3 separate regions of the Homo sapiens genome follow, and all the other regions are reported to be linked to region 1. Evidence: microRNA targets listed by miRTarBase, many of them from high-throughput screens and not tested one by one. Region 1 holds a microRNA gene; each other region holds the end of a gene's coding sequence.

The links. The annotated mature microRNA hsa-miR-450a-1-3p reads AUUGGGAACAUUUUGCAUGUAU and lies in region 1 at 2,482-2,503, shown strand. An mRNA with a match to its seed (bases 2 to 7 or 8) in the 3' UTR can be bound and repressed. Matches are read on the target gene's strand: a 7mer-m8 pairs with bases 2 to 8, a 7mer-A1 pairs with bases 2 to 7 and ends in A, and an 8mer does both.
Region 2: miRTarBase lists SETD5 as a target of hsa-miR-450a-1-3p. Seed matches in the 3' UTR shown: 7mer-m8 at 1,330-1,336.
Region 3: the mRNA of SERTAD1 is a reported target of hsa-miR-450a-1-3p. Seed matches in the 3' UTR shown: 7mer-A1 at 1,455-1,461.

Annotation. Positions count from the first base shown.
Region 1 is chrX:134,537,718-134,542,860 of GRCh38, reverse strand. MIR450A1 (microRNA 450a-1) reads left to right here and starts at 2,430; the gene lies at 2,430-2,520. It overlaps MIR450B (microRNA 450b), which reads left to right and starts at 2,599; the gene lies at 2,599-2,676. It overlaps MIR450A2 (microRNA 450a-2), which reads left to right and starts at 2,254; the gene lies at 2,254-2,353. MIR542 (microRNA 542) reads left to right here and starts at 1,424; the gene lies at 1,424-1,520.
Region 2 is chr3:9,475,495-9,480,604 of GRCh38, forward strand. SETD5 (SET domain containing 5) reads left to right here. Exons shown (of 23, transcript NM_001080517.3): 23 at 1-2,660. The coding sequence ends at 597. Among named protein-coding and RNA genes, the nearest start is that of LHFPL4, 76 kb to the right of the region's middle.
Region 3 is chr19:40,418,255-40,423,364 of GRCh38, reverse strand. SERTAD1 (SERTA domain containing 1) reads left to right here. Exons shown (of 2, transcript NM_013376.4): 2 at 1-1,776. The coding sequence ends at 529. Among named protein-coding and RNA genes, the nearest start is that of SERTAD1, 5.2 kb to the left of the region's middle. RefSeq lists a silencer at 2,007-2,096 and enhancers at 2,387-2,506, 2,172-2,672.

The DNA of each region.
Region 1 (5,143 bases):
TAGTTACTCCTCAGTGAATAAACAAGGATCGGCTAGCTCTTTCATAATATTTCACCTATCTGCCACCTTTTCCCTCCTCCCCAGCTCCACAGCTGATCTCTTTGGCAAGTTCAGCCAGGCTTAAAACCCCTGTGGGGATAGTAAATTGAGCCAAGAGGGAGGAGCCCCGAAAGACTTCCACTTCCTGTGGTTGCTTGGGCCTTTGAGCACTCCCCCTTCCACTACTGAGCTCTATAATCTGAGCAGTTGGTGGGTGTTTGGAAACATGGCCTTGGCTCCACTGCTGGAGTCAGGGAGCTCAGAACACTGCAGCAACCTGCCAGTGAGAGTCTGGGTTGCTTTGAAGCCTGAGTCTCCCAAGGCAGCTCCCTCACCTGTTCCCCCATGTCCACCCCCACCTGCCATCCAGACAAGACTATTACCCTAAGACCAGACCTTCTAAAGGCGTGGCCACAGAATCATCAGTATCCCAACATCTTGCCTTTGTATCGTGTGTTTACATACTTTTCCAAATACTTTGTTTTTTCTTTTTTTTCTTTTTTTAATTTGTGACAACCTTGAAAGACAAACAGAGTTAAGGCAGTCCAAAAAATAATTACAGACAAGAAAACTGGGGCCTCTGGAGGTTAAGGATTTGTCTGAGGCTACTCTCTGGGGGCTCTTCCTCCAGGCCTCATACTGTGTTCCTTATGTCATTACCTGTTCATCAGAACCGACTATGCAGTAGTGACCAGAGCAGGAAATGGAGGTGAATGTGTTTGGTTACAAAAATTCCCGGTGAAACTGGCTAGTCTTATGATGAGCTTTGGCCTATACATTGGACACTTCCTGGGTGAGGCCCAAGATTGGCCCCAGGATTACTAAATAGTGACTATAAGTTACCCAGCCGTGTACAAGTCAATCTGCACAAACCAAAAAAGCATGATTTAAATTCATTTTAAACCTCTGTCCCATGTTTGTTATTTTCTGTAGATTCAATCAAATTATCTTAAGGAAACAAATGAAGTGTCAAGCTATAGGGGTTGACTTAATCTAGTCACTCACTCAATGGAACCTTTTTCAGCCATTGCAAATAATAATGATAGAGAATATACAGAAACCTGGAAAATGCTTATGATATCAACTTAAAAAAAATCAGGGCCACAAAATCACATGGACACCATGATTGAAAAATAGGAGCAGAACCTGGAGGAAACCTGCAAAACAGACATACTTGTTACTTAAGGGTGGTGGGATTAGAGCTGAAGTTTCTTCTTTCTCTACTTTTTCATGGTTTTGTGTGTGTGTGTGTGTGTGTGTGTGTGTGTGTGTGTGTGTGTGTGTGAGATGCCACGTTTTCTTGTTATGTTGTCAAAATATAATTCTCTAAAAAGTCTTTAGGGGTCATGGGTGATACAGAAATTTGGGATCGGTCAAGGATGCACAGATCTCAGACATCTCGGGGATCATCATGTCACGAGATACCAGTGTGCACTTGTGACAGATTGATAACTGAAAGGTCTGGGAGCCACTCATCTTCATAGCAAAACATGTGGTAAGTATTACAAGACGAATCAATGAAAAGATCAGGAGGAAAGTGGGCCCTAAGCAAAGAAGAAAGGGGTTGCTATGGGATGGGGTGGGAGGATGAGTTGTGTTTTCATAGGAGTGTAATGGGAATGCCTTTATTTGTGTCTTTATTGCTTTAAATGTTTGTTGAATGAATTGAAACTTACATAAGGTATATGATTTTATACTTGTGCTAGAATGCTAAAATAAAGAATTTATGCTCAAGCAAACAACTGGAAAACACTTTGCTATAAGCATTACAGACACAGGGTCATTTTTAGTATGTTGAGTCCACACAAGTGGTCAAGAAAAACCATAAAAACTACATGAACAGAAAGCCCCAGTTAAAAAAAATGCATAAAGATGCTCATTTCAATATTTTAAGGATGGAAGTTAGGAACATCCTGAATGACCAACAACAAAGGATTAGACAAATAAAATACAGCGTAGCTAGCTAGTACAATAGAATAGGATGCTTTCATGTAAAATAATGTTTCTGAAAGTAATTTTCATGTCATGAGAATGTGCTCCTGATAAAACATTTAGCGATTGAAAAAAGGTGCAAAATATTTTCCCATCTCTGCAATATAGGTATATAGGGAGCATTCTGTATGAATAGTTTTGTATCAACATACAGATAAAAGGCTAGGAGGAAACATATAAAAACTTTATTGTGATTATCTCTGAGTTGTGGTATAAAGGTGACCAAAGAAAGATGCTAAACTATTTTTGCGATGTGTTCCTAATATGTAATATAAATGTATTGGGGACATTTTGCATTCATAGTTTTGTATCAATAATATGGGGAAAAGAGGCTATCAGGAAGTATACCAAAAGTCTAGAGGTGGTTATCGCTGACTTGTGTCACTATAGGCAATCAAAAACGATACTAAACTGTTTTTGCGATGTGTTCCTAATATGCACTATAAATATATTGGGAACATTTTGCATGTATAGTTTTGTATCAATATACAGATGAAAAGATGGAGGGAATAAGCAAAAAATCTAACAGCGGCTATCTGTGGTTTACTTCTGTGATAAATGTAAGATGCAGAATTATTTTTGCAATATGTTCCTGAATATGTAATATAAGTGTATTGGGATCATTTTGCATCCATAGTTTTGTATCAACATATGGAGAAAAGTCTAGGAAGAAATATACCAAAACTTGTAACAGTATTATAGTATAAAATTATAGGTAATGTTTGTTTTTCTCTTTATACTTTTATGTATTTTCCAAGTAATATTTGCATAAACAATAAAATGCATTGCTTTTATAGCAATAATAAAACATTTTATTTTTAAAAAGAGTTTGTATTTTTTTTAAAGCATGAACCCCTGACATAAGGGTGGGGGAAGACTTCCTATTTGGCCAGCAGTGGGCCTAGAATACTTTTTCAAACATATCTGGGAAACCTTTGTACAACTTCAGTTGGATCTGCAGTGCAAATGTGTTTTCATTTGCTCTTGGCAAAGAAAAGAGAAAGTATAACTAAAAAATATAACCACGACAGAGTTATAATAGTAATATTAGTAAACAAACTGCTATCTATGTCTAATCAAAGTAACATTTAAAGAAGTATAGAAAGCTGAAACAGGCTCCTTTTCCTCTAGTAGCAATTCAGGAAGGTGGTACTTGGATGCTCGCCCAGGGCCTCAAGACGCATTGGCCAGTTTGAGATATGCCCAAGTCAGGAAAACACCTTATTTAGGTTATTTCCACTCAGCCAACTTCTTGCAGATGCGGGTAAAGCCCCCCCTGCATTTTCCCGCAAATTCAGCTGAGCTCCATAGTAACTCTGGTGTTGCAGAACACATGTGACACCTCAATTTAGGCGATCCTTGTTCTGGTAAGAGATGGAACCATTTGGTCACGTACCTGGCCCATGGTCTGAAGGGCACCTACCAAGGTTTTAGCGTTCCTCAGTGGCACTGATTTGGACAGAGACACATTACAGGAGGATCTAAGTTCCTTCCTATCTTTTTAGTAGCATTTTGGGAAACTGTTCCCCCACCAAGGACATATTTGGCACTCTAGCAAGTCCATATGACTAGACATTACTTTCTTTTTTTTTTTTTTTTTTTTGAGACGGAGTCTGGCTGGCTCTGTCACCCTGGCTGGAGTGCAATGGTGCGATCTCAGCTCACTGCAAGCTCTGCCTCCCAGGTTCAAGCGATTCTCCTGCCTCAGCCTCCCAAGTAGCTGGGATTACAGGTGCCCGCCACCTTGCCTGGCTAATTTTTTTGTATTTTTAGTAGAGACGGGTTTCACTGTGTTAGCCAGGATGGTCTCGATCTCCTGATCTCGTGATCTGCCCACCTTGGCCTCCCAAAGTGCTGGGATTACAGGCGTGAGCCACCGTGCCCGGCCGACATTACTTTCAAAATAGATCCATCATATTCCTTAAAGGAGAAGCTGAGTTGTGAGGCAAATATATATACACATATCCATTTACAAAGATACAGGAGACCATTCCTCCAATTTTCTGATGCCCTGCCCTTGTTCTGCTTAAGAACATACAATCATACAACCAAACTGGTCCCCATGCTTAAATGTGTGTACTCCTCTTTAAGGAGCATAAGCATTTTTATCTGCCACACTCTGTCAATCAGAGCATATTTACTGGGTGCCTACCTCTGTGCTAGTTACTTGTGGATAGAGGAGCGGGTAGGGGAGAAGCGGAGGTTAAGGTGATACTGAGCCAGAGAGGCCTTGAACACACGAATACTTTGTCTGCCACTGGGTACAGAGCAGGGATCAGCTGAGGCTTTGACCTTCGTCTGAGCCAGGTCAGACCACACAGAGAATCTGCTTTGCTAAGCAACCATCTAAGTGGCCTCCTTTCCCCTAGGGCTCACTCTAGTCCCTGCTGGACAAAATGTATGGAATAGGGGCAGAGTGTGGGAGGGACCCCTTTCTAAATGGGAGGTCTCGCCTCTAGGGCTGAGAAAGAGAGAGAGAGAGAAATCATTCCAAATTGAGCATTGATCTTAAGCCCCTTTCGTTGACCAGTGAAAAAAAAATCTTCAGCCCCTGAATTTCTTTCTATATATGTATATATAGAGAAAGACAGAGAGACAGGGTCTCACTATATCGCCCAGGCTAGTCTTGAACTCCTGGGCTCAAGCGATACTCCCACCTCAGCCTCCCAAAGTATTGGGATTACAGGCGTGAGCCCCTGCGCCCGGCTGAATTTCTGAACCAGTGAAATGTCCTAGAATTTGGCCAGTACAGAGATTGCTTCTCAGAGTTGGAAGTATGCCAAGAGGGGTTGAGGAGGGGCAGGTGCAGAAGGTGCTGAGGGCTTCCCTTTGTTAACAGGGTACAAACCCTCATTTTACACAAGTCCAGCCCCTCATTTTACAGAAGAGAAAACCAAGTTGCAGAGAGAGAAAATAAGTTGCAGAGAGGTCGTGCAGAGAATTGGGCAATGTTACAACTTGAACCTTGAGCTTCAGGGCTTTTTCCATTGTAATATACTGGGTCTAAAGGACACAGGGAGTGACTTGGAAAGACTCTATGAAGGATATGGGACTTGATGAGCACCTGCAAAAGTGGGTGGGGCTGGGCATGGTAGTGTTCACCTGTAGGCCC
Region 2 (5,110 bases), not on the chromosome of region 1:
GATAGTCCTCGGACAGAATCACAAAGCCTCCTTCAGCAGAGTTCCTCCCCCTTCAGAGGACATCCTACACAGTCTCCAGGATACAGTTATCGAACTACTGCACTGAGACCTGGAAACCCCCCCTCTCACGGTTCTTCAGAATCATCCCTCTCTTCCACGTCCTATTCCAGCCCCGCCCACCCTGTGTCCACAGACTCGTTGGCCCCATTTACGGGGACACCAGGGTATTTTAGCAGCCAGCCACATTCTGGAAACAGCACTGGCAGCAATCTTCCAAGGAGGAGCTGCCCTTCTAGTGCTGCTAGCCCTACCCTGCAGGGACCCTCAGACTCGCCAACCTCAGATTCAGTTTCTCAGTCCAGCACAGGAACTCTGAGTTCCACCTCCTTTCCTCAGAACTCTAGGTCGTCATTGCCATCAGACTTACGGACTATCAGTCTGCCCAGTGCTGGGCAGTCAGCTGTCTACCAGGCCTCCAGGGTATCTGCGGTTTCCAATTCACAGCACTACCCACACCGTGGGAGTGGGGGTGTGCACCAGTACCGACTCCAGCCACTGCAAGGGTCAGGAGTCAAGACTCAGACGGGACTTTCCTAGGGCTTCTGGATTTGGGCAAACAGAACTGAATGAGCCCATAGCTGCTTCCTTCCAGCTGCCTCTGGAACCTAGGCCGAGCATATTGCTGAGGAACGGGGGGTACAAGGTGCCAGAGGATTGGGTCTGGTGGACAAGAAACAAGACTTGTGGTCACAATTGGCCTCTGGCCTTGGAGAAAGCTGTAAATCTTGTCTGAAGCAGAGACTATAAAGAAGTTTCTCCCTGCTGTCAAGGGTACATTGTTGACAAGCAAATGGTGTTTCGGTTAGTAACGGTTCTAAGTGCAATGAGTTGTGTTGAAGCCTCCGTCTCCCATCCTTGCCTGTAGCCCGTAGTCACTTGTGCAGTGAGGACATCTTTTTAAATTTAAAAAAAAAAAAAAAAAAAGTTTTCAAAGGAAAAAAAGTTAAAAGAGCCAATCTCAAAGCCCCAAGCCATCTGAGTACTGTTAGGGTTTTATGCACTTAAGAAAAAAGGTAGGTATGTAAATGTTCATCCTAAGACAACCATTCCAAAAGCAGGTATCTGGCCAATGTGTGTCCACCAAGAATACTGTTTATCTTTGTCTTAAGATCACCAAGAAATAGGCAAGGATAGTAAAGCTTGGAACCTGCACCAACTGGAGGGTGCCTGGCTCTTTGAAGAAAAGCTCATGGTCAGCTCTTGATTATTCGGGAGCAGATTATTTGAGTAGATTGTCTGAGCCTCCAACTGTTACCATCCTACTCCCCCTTCCCAAGCTATTTCACAGCTCAGTAACCCATGAAGTAAGTAGACAAGAAAAGGAGGAATGAGACATGATATAGGCCAATTGCATTGCTACTTACCAGCTTTTGGCAATAAATTTCATTAGGAAGGATACCGAGTGGTTTGGGAATGCTTCGAATTTTATTTTTTCTACTCCCAATTAATCAGGAGTTGATGATCCCATGAGCAGGACCGCCTCCATGATTGGGGAGCATGCACTTGTGACTGCAGGGTAAGAGTGGGAAGATAGGTTTGTGGAGTGGCACCGACAGGACTGTGATTGTGTGTGGGCCTGCCCCACATTTCTCTGGGGGATGCTTATGTGAGAGTGGGCCCAGTGAAAGAGTTACCAAGCCACCCACACCCCTAACACTGTTCTGGATGAGAGATGAGAGCAGACCGGCTTCTCCCCATCAGTGCATTGTGCCTGTTGTACACCCCTGGAGGAGCCCTGGAGCCAGCCCAGGTGGGGTACACAATCTTTTTAAATTCCATATGGTTGCCAGCTTATTTCTTTCACTTGTTTACTGTAATATCTGGCGTGTTTTTATTTATCTAATTTTGTATTCAGTTATAACCATGGTAGGGGTAGTGAATATATGACAGGTGTAATCCCTGGTGCTGCAGTGGACCTTCTTTTCTTTTGGACAAGATAATACTGTGAGTTTCCCTCCTTCCTTCCCTCTAATTTGTTTTCCTTTTTTCCCCAGCCTCTTGCATCCCCTTCTTTTCTACCCTGTCCTACAACTATCATATGCACAGTCTTCTCTCTTTGTGTGTGACTGTTACAAAATTTCACTTTTCAAAATCGAAATCAGGTGTTTGCTCAAATGAGGGGAGATTTTTTTTTTTTTTTTTTTTTTAAATGCTGAGACCTCAGCAGAGTACTTTTCTTTTTGTTGTTTCCCCCACAAACCCATCAGTCTGGGAGAGCATTGGGAGTGGAAATCATGTTGCCTGGGATGCTGGTTTCTTTGTATATTATATAAAACGTATGTAAATGTCTCTCCATTTGGGCTGGGGTTTGCATTCTCCCCTTGGCTATTTAACCAAGGGGAGAGGCCAGCGGGCAGGCGGCCCTCACCCTGCCTGGCACGTGCAGAGACCCCAGCCACTCTGTGTGGGCAGGGTGCTGTCAAGACCAGACCTCTTGGGGGGGTAGGGGCGGGGGGGTGGGGGGAACTCTTGGAAGGGAAGAAGTATCACTTCTTTCTCAAGTGGAGTGTTTACACCTTGCTGTAACATTTGAACTTTCACAAGAGATGTAATAATTTTGATAATAAAATTCTTAACCATAATAATCATAAAGTTGAGAACTTCTTTGTCCAATTTTGTGGCCCTGCCTTGCCTGGTTTTCCTAATGCCATTTTTATCTGAGGAGAATGTGCCCTTGGTGGAGTTGTTTTGCCCATGATAATGGGGCCAGGAATACTGTCTGATCTTCCTTCGCTTTTTATGATTGCAGTCAGGACAGTGTGAAGGCAAACCTGCAGCAGGGCAAGTGAACATTAAAAACTGCCTTGAACTTGAGTGGTGTTCCTGACCTTGGCCTCATTCATTCAGCAACTATTTATTGGTCTTTTTCATTCAAAAACAATGCTGGACATTGTTTTTGGTGCTGGGCTTATGGTGATTAGAATGCTGATTGGGGGTGGGCAAAGTAAGGTCTCTTCTTTCATGGAGTTTACATTCTAGTGGAGGAGAGAACTAAACTAGTATATAATTTTAAATAGTCATTGCCATGTTAATTGTTTCATAGCAGATATGTGACTAAGACAGTTGAAGGAGCCACTCTAGATTGGTTGGTCAAGAAAAGTCTCTGAGGAGTTGACATTTAAACTGAGACTTCAGTGACAAGGAGGCAGTCCTGGGACGATGTGAGTGAAATTCATTCTTGAACGTTGCAGACTCTGTGGTAGAAAAAGCTTGGTTAAGATGTAATAAATGGATGGGGCTGGGAAAGAGGATAGAAGATCCTGTAAGAGGGAGATAGGGGACAGATCATGTAGAGCAGGAGTCGGCAAACTCTTTCTATAAAGGGCCAGATAGTAAATATTTAGACTTTGCAAGCCATGTATGGTCTCTGTCATAACTATTCAGCCCTTTGGCTGGGTGCGAATCATGCCTGTAATTCCAGCACTTTGGGAGGCCCAAGAGAGCAGATCACTTGAGGTCAGAAGTTCGAGACCAGCCTGGCCAACATGGCAAAACCCTGTCTACTAAAAATACAAAAATTAACCAGGTGTGGTGGTGCGCACCTGTAATCCCAGCTACTCAGGAGGCTGAGGCAGGAGAATCTCTTGAACCTGGGAGGAGGAGGTTATAGTGAACCAAGGTCACTCCACTGCACTCCAGCCTGGGTGATGGAGCGAGACTCTGTCTCAAAAAAAAAAAAAAAAAAAAAAAAAAAAACAACTATTCAGCTCTTCCATTGCAGTGCAAAAGCAGGCATAGACAGTATGTGGCTATGTTCCAATAAAACTTTATTTACAGGAAACAAGTGGCAAGTTGGATTTGGTTTGCAGGCTGTAGTTTGCTGGTCTCTAATGTAGAACCTTGTAGGTATAATTTAAATAATCTGCATTCAGTAAGTACAGTGGAGGAGTCATTGCAGGATTTTAAGGAGAGAAGTGACATTGTCTAATTTATATTTGGTTGATTTTTAAAAATTACTCTGATTGTTTTGATCCTGTTGGTGAAGAGATGAATAGGAGCTGAGAAACTGGTGTGGAAGGTAGAGCAGTTGTTCAGGCAAGCAACAATGCAGTGGTGGCTTCTATTAAGACGGTAATGATGGGGATAAGAAGTGATTGGAGTCAGGATATGTTTTGCAAGTACACAGCAGAACTTGCCAATGGATTGAATTGGCAGTATTCTAACATTTGTTTGACAAATGTTTACTGAGTAACTAAGGTAGACTGCAGTTTGCAAAGCACATAAGGGATTCAAAGATGAAGATGCTATTTATTAGTTGAAGGAGTTTAGAAATGGAAGGCTGGGCGTGGTGGCTCATGCCTGTAATCCCAGCACTTTGGGGGGCCAAGGCAGGCGGATCACAAGATCAGGAGTTTGAGACCAGCCTGAACAACATGGTGAAACCCTGTCTCTACTAAAAATACAAAAATTAGCCGGGCGTGGTGGTGCGTGCCTGTAATCCCAGCTCCTTGGGAGGCTGGGGCAGGAGAATCGCTTGAACCCAGGAGGCAGAGGTTGCAGTGAGCCGAGATCGTGCCACTACACTCCAGCCTGGGCGACAGAGCGAGACTCCGTCTCAAAAGAAAATAGAAAGTGGAAACATAACAAAACCACTTGTTTTATTAGAAGATCCCTCCAAAATGCCCTAGGAATACCTAGGTAACCTACCACCAACCACAACCTGATTCTACCTGGGTTAGGAAGAGAATAGTGTGCATGATCTTTAGAAAGTGTTTCCATATACAGTGTCTTATTTTGACTCATAATTCTGTGAAGAAAGCAAGCCAAATGCCAGAAGTTAAAGATGAGAAATTGAGACCTAGTACAGTGTTTCAGCTATAGCACTGGGCTTCTGATAATGAATAAAACTAACTGATTTCTGCCATAATTGGAAGGTTCTGTTCCATGACCATTGGCTGAACACCTACTGTGTGCTAGGCTATATCTGAGGTGCTGAGAATATCAAGGTAAGACAGTCAACTGCCCATTCAGAGTTAACCTATTTGCTATTCTTTTCAAGTACTTACTGTGTTGCTAGGGACTTTGCTTTTGATATGGTGTAAATCAGAGG
Region 3 (5,110 bases), not on the chromosome of region 1:
GCCGGACCTGCGGCACCTGGTGCTGGTCGTGAACACTCTGCGGCGCATCCAGGCGTCCATGGCACCCGCGGCTGCCCTGCCACCTGTGCCTAGCCCACCTGCAGCCCCCAGTGTGGCTGACAACTTACTGGCAAGCTCGGACGCTGCCCTTTCAGCCTCCATGGCCAGCCTCCTGGAGGACCTCAGCCACATTGAGGGCCTGAGTCAGGCTCCCCAACCCTTGGCAGACGAGGGGCCACCAGGCCGTAGCATCGGGGGAGCAGCGCCCAGCCTGGGTGCCTTGGACCTGCTGGGCCCAGCCACTGGCTGTCTACTGGACGATGGGCTTGAGGGCCTGTTTGAGGATATTGACACCTCTATGTATGACAATGAACTTTGGGCACCAGCCTCTGAGGGCCTCAAACCAGGCCCTGAGGATGGGCCGGGCAAGGAGGAAGCTCCGGAGCTGGACGAGGCCGAATTGGACTACCTCATGGATGTGCTGGTGGGCACACAGGCACTGGAGCGACCGCCGGGGCCAGGGCGCTGAGCCCTCGTGCTGGAATGGTTGTCTGGTATCTGAACTGAGCCTGCTGGCTGGACCAACTGTCCTCGAAAAGACACAGCTGGCTTCCCTAGTACAGAGAACAGGGCTTGGGCCACTTTGGAGAGACAGAATCTAGTCCTGGGCAACTTCACATCCGTCCTCCTGTCTCAGGGCTGGCAGGGGGAGCCTGGAATTACCCCCTAGTGATGGAATGACAGGGTCTGGTGGGGACTGAATTCCCTGGCCCTGGGGTCATAGCTTGGGCTGTTCCTTCTCTGATACGGGAAGAGACCCCAATCAGATTTTTCAAATTAAAGCCAGTCCTGGGAAATCTCAAATCCGTGTGCTGCTTTGTCTCTGGGCAAATGTGAAGGCGAGATAAAAACATCAAACATTTTATTGGGCGTAGGCTGTGTACGAGGCACAGTTTCTAAGCACGTCACTGTGTTAACTCATTTAATCCTATAACAGCCCTACAAGATCGGTAGTATTATCATCCCTATTTTACAGGTGAGAAAACCAAGGTTCCAAGATTATCACTTGAGGTGGGTTTTAAATTATGAACTTTTTTTTTTTTTTTTTTGAGATAGGGTCTCGCTCTGTCACCCAGGTTGAAGTACAGTGGTCTGATCATGGCTCACTACAGCCTCAAACTCCTGGGCTCAAGCGATCCTCCTACCAGGCCACTTTTTTTTTTTCTTTCTTTTTTTTTTAAGACAGATTCTTACTCTGTCGCCCAGGCTGGAGTGCAGTGGCGTGACTTCGGCTCACTGCAACCTCCACCTCCCAGGTTCAAACGATTCTCCTGCCTCGGCCTCCCAATTAGCTGGGACCGACTAATTTTTTATATTTTTTGTAGAGACAGGGTTTCACCGTGTTAGCCAGGATGGTCTTCATCTTCTGACCTCGTGATCTGCCTGCCTCAGCCTCCCAAAGTGCTGGGATTACAGGCGTGAGCCACTGTGCCTGGCCTTTTTTTTTTTTTCTTAAATTTTATTTCTTTTCTTTGCTAGCAGGAAGTCAAGGCAACTTTTTAAAAATGAAAGCAAGTCCTCGCCTGGAGTCTACCTGTATTTATTGAGGAGCGAAGGGGAGATTGCTTTCAGAATGGTCCCGAAATAAAAACACAAAACCTGGACCCTGGACAGATCCTCTCCAAGGAGCCCTGAGAGTCGGCTCTCCAGGAAAATGGGGGAGGAAAGGGGGACAACAGCCCATTTTTAAAAATAAAATTCACTCCTGGTCTTAAATCTCTGGGCAAAGGATAGGGACGCTTGGAGCTGTGTCTGAAATAAAGCCACTAGGCTTGGTAGCTGGACTGCAGAGAGGGAGCTCAGGGCAGGCAGCTGTGCCTTCCTTCTAGAAGAAACCCAGACCCGGACGAGCTGGGGCCACCTGCCCGTGTGCTGGGCCTGGCTGGAGCGCCGGGTGTCAGCGGCCGCCCCCGCGGTCCAGCCGCATTCCAGGCCTGGCTGGGAGGGGCCGCACACTCAGCGGCCTGGCACGGGACCCAGGCTGCGTCCTTCCTGACGGCCGCAGGGACAGGGCGGAGCCTGAGGGGGGGTGCACGGAGGGGAGGGAGTGTCACCGTGAAAACTGCGGGTGCGCATGGAGAGAGGCGCAGGGGGCTGGACGGTGACCCGAGGGGCCAGCGGGGCCTTGAGTGAGGGAAACGCCGCCATCGTGGGGTCCCAGAGCCTCGCTTCTGGCCAGAAGCCTCGGGGAGGCAGAGGCAGGAGTGGAGCTGGGCCAGATGGGGAGCCTGGGTCGGCCCCAGGGGCCGGGAAGGGGCGGGCAGAGTGGCGCTTCCTGGAGGAGCAGAGGAAGTTGTGCCCATTTCTGGAAGTGGATGAGGCGGGCCGCGGAAGCGGGTGAAAATGGCCTGCGGGGAGCTGTCGTCCAGGCTGAGGGTCTTCCAGGCGCCTGACTCCAACCCCGAGTGACTCCAGCCCCGGGCAAATGGGACTCGGACTGCTTTGCCGCAGACTCAAAACTTGGGCGCCTGGGCTGAGCTCAGCACCGCCCCCTGGTGCCCAGTCGGGCTCTGCGGTGCCGCCGTCTTGGGTTCCCCGGACATCTGTCCAGTGGTCGAGGGATCATGAACGCCCTCTGTTTACAACACTCTGCGGGCCTGTTTCTTTCTTTTCTTTTTCTTTTTTTTTTTTTTTTAGAGACGGGGTCTCGCTTTGTCGCCCAGGCTGGAGAGTGCAGTGGCGCGATCATAGCTCACTATAGCCTCGAATTCCTGGGCTTCAGCAATCCTCCCGCGTCAGCCTCCCAATTAGCTGGGGTTACAGGTGCACGCCACCACGCCCAACTGATTTTATTTTTATTCTTATTTTTATTTATTTATTTATTTATTATTTTTTGAGATGGATTCTCGCTCTGTCGCCCAGGCTGGAGTGCAATGGTGCAATCTCGGCTCACTGCAGCCCCTGCCTCCTGGGTTCAAGCAATTCTGCCTCAGCCTCCCGAGTAGCTGGGATTACAGGCGCCTGCCACCATGCCCGGCTAATTTTTTGTATTTTTAGTAGAGACAGAGTTTCACCATGTTCGCCAGGCTAGTCTTGAACTCCTGATATCAAGTGATCCGCCCTGCCTCAGCCTCCCAAAGTGCTGGGATTACAGGCGTGAGCCACCATGCCCGGCCGATTTTTTAAATTTTTTGTAGAGACAGTGTTGCCCTATGTTGTCCAGGCTGGTCTCGAACCCCCAGGCTCAAGCAATCCTTCCACCTCAGCCTCCCAAAGTGCTGGGATTCCCGTGGGCCTGTTTCTTATTCTTTCCTTTCCCCGCTTTTTCAAAGAGATTGGGTCTCACTGTGTTGTCCAGGCTGGAGAGCACTGTCTGTACAGAGGAGTGATCATAGTGCTGTACAGCCTTGAACTCCTAGGCTCAAAGGATCCTCTGGCTTCAGCCCTCAGAGTGGCTGGGACTATAGGCACAAACCACTGTGCCCAGCTAAGGACCTGTTTCTGATGTCTCCGAGGCCCAATATGGGGTGAGCTGATCCTTCCGTCTGCCCCTGTGCCTGCTTTGCCACTGATGGCCCCTCTCCCCAGAGCCTCTAGGTACAGTTGCATAGGTTGTGCACTGCATATAGGCTCCGTATGTAAGGGGCTGCCACTGGTGTTCCAGGTACCCTGCATTTACATATTTATTACAAGTTTCCCAGCAGATGGAGGTCAAGTACCTCCAGGAAGGGGCATGTCTTTTACACAAAAGCACCATATGGGCTACATCAGCCCTGGTCCCGTCTGCCCGGTGCCCTCAGGTTTATGAATGGCTCATGTGTGAGGACCTGCCCCTCTCTCCCCATGTGTCACCCCCAGATGGGTTGTGCAGGCTCCCTGGCTCTGGTGTGCTGCTCCACCCTCAGGCTCAACCCCAGGAGGCCACACCACCTTGGCCAGCAGACTCCAGGGCCCACACCATTCCTAGCTGAGCCGCCAGCCCTGGCACAACTGCCACCTTTCACAGAGCCTCTGTGTATGCTCGCCATGACGCCCCCTAGGCCAGCTTTCCTCCATGGCATTCACAGACCACCCCCAAAACACACACACACACACACACACACACACACACTCTCTCTCTCTCTCTCACACCTGGAAGAGCTGTGACCAGCTATCTTGTCTCTTTTTCCTCCCTCCCTTCTTCCTGTCCTTCATTCAGCAAAAATTTATGAGCACACACCTACTGTGTGCCTATCCCTATGTAAAGGGTAAATCTGACCACATCTCTCCCCTGCCCCTGGGCCCTTATTACCCCACTTCTCTGGGGTCTGAATTCTGTACTTTCCAAGGCTCACCTTCTACCTCTGTCCCTATTCATTAGACACTTATTGAGTGGCCGGGCATGGTGGTTCACGCCTGTAATCCCAGCATTTTGGGAGGCCGAGGCAGGTGGATCACAAGGTCAAGAGATTGAGACCATCCTGGCCAACATGGTGAAACCCCATTTCTACTAAAAATACAAAAATTATCTGGGCAAGGTGGCGGGCCTGTAATCCCAGCTACTCAGGAGGCTGAGGCAGGAGAATCACTTGAACCCGGGAGGCGGAGGTTGCAGTGAGCCGAGATTGTGCTGCTGCACTCCAGCCTGGCGACAGAGCGAGACTCCATCTCAAAAAAACCAAACCAAACAAAATTAAAAAACACTTATTGAGCACCTATGGTATGCAGTCCCGGCACACTTTAGAAATCTAACAGAGATATTATTGAAGCAGTAAGCTGGAGAGAAGAGACTGTTCCTGAAAGCCAGACTGCCTGGGTTTGAACCCCAGCTTTGGCCAGATGCGACGGCTCACGCCTGTAGTCCCAGCTACTCAGGAGGTTGAGGTGAGAAGATCACTTGAGGCCAGGAGTTTGAGGCTGCAATGAGCCATGATTGCACCACTGCACTCCAGCCTGGGTGACAGAACAAGACCCTGTCAGAAAGAAAGAAGGAAGGACGGAAGGAAGGAAGGCAGGAGGGAAGGAAGGAGGGAGGGAAGGAAGGGAGAGAGAGGAAGGAAGGAAGAAAGAAAGGAAAGAGAGAGAAGAAAAAAGGAAGGAAGGGAAAGAAAGAAAGGAAGAAAGAAAAGAA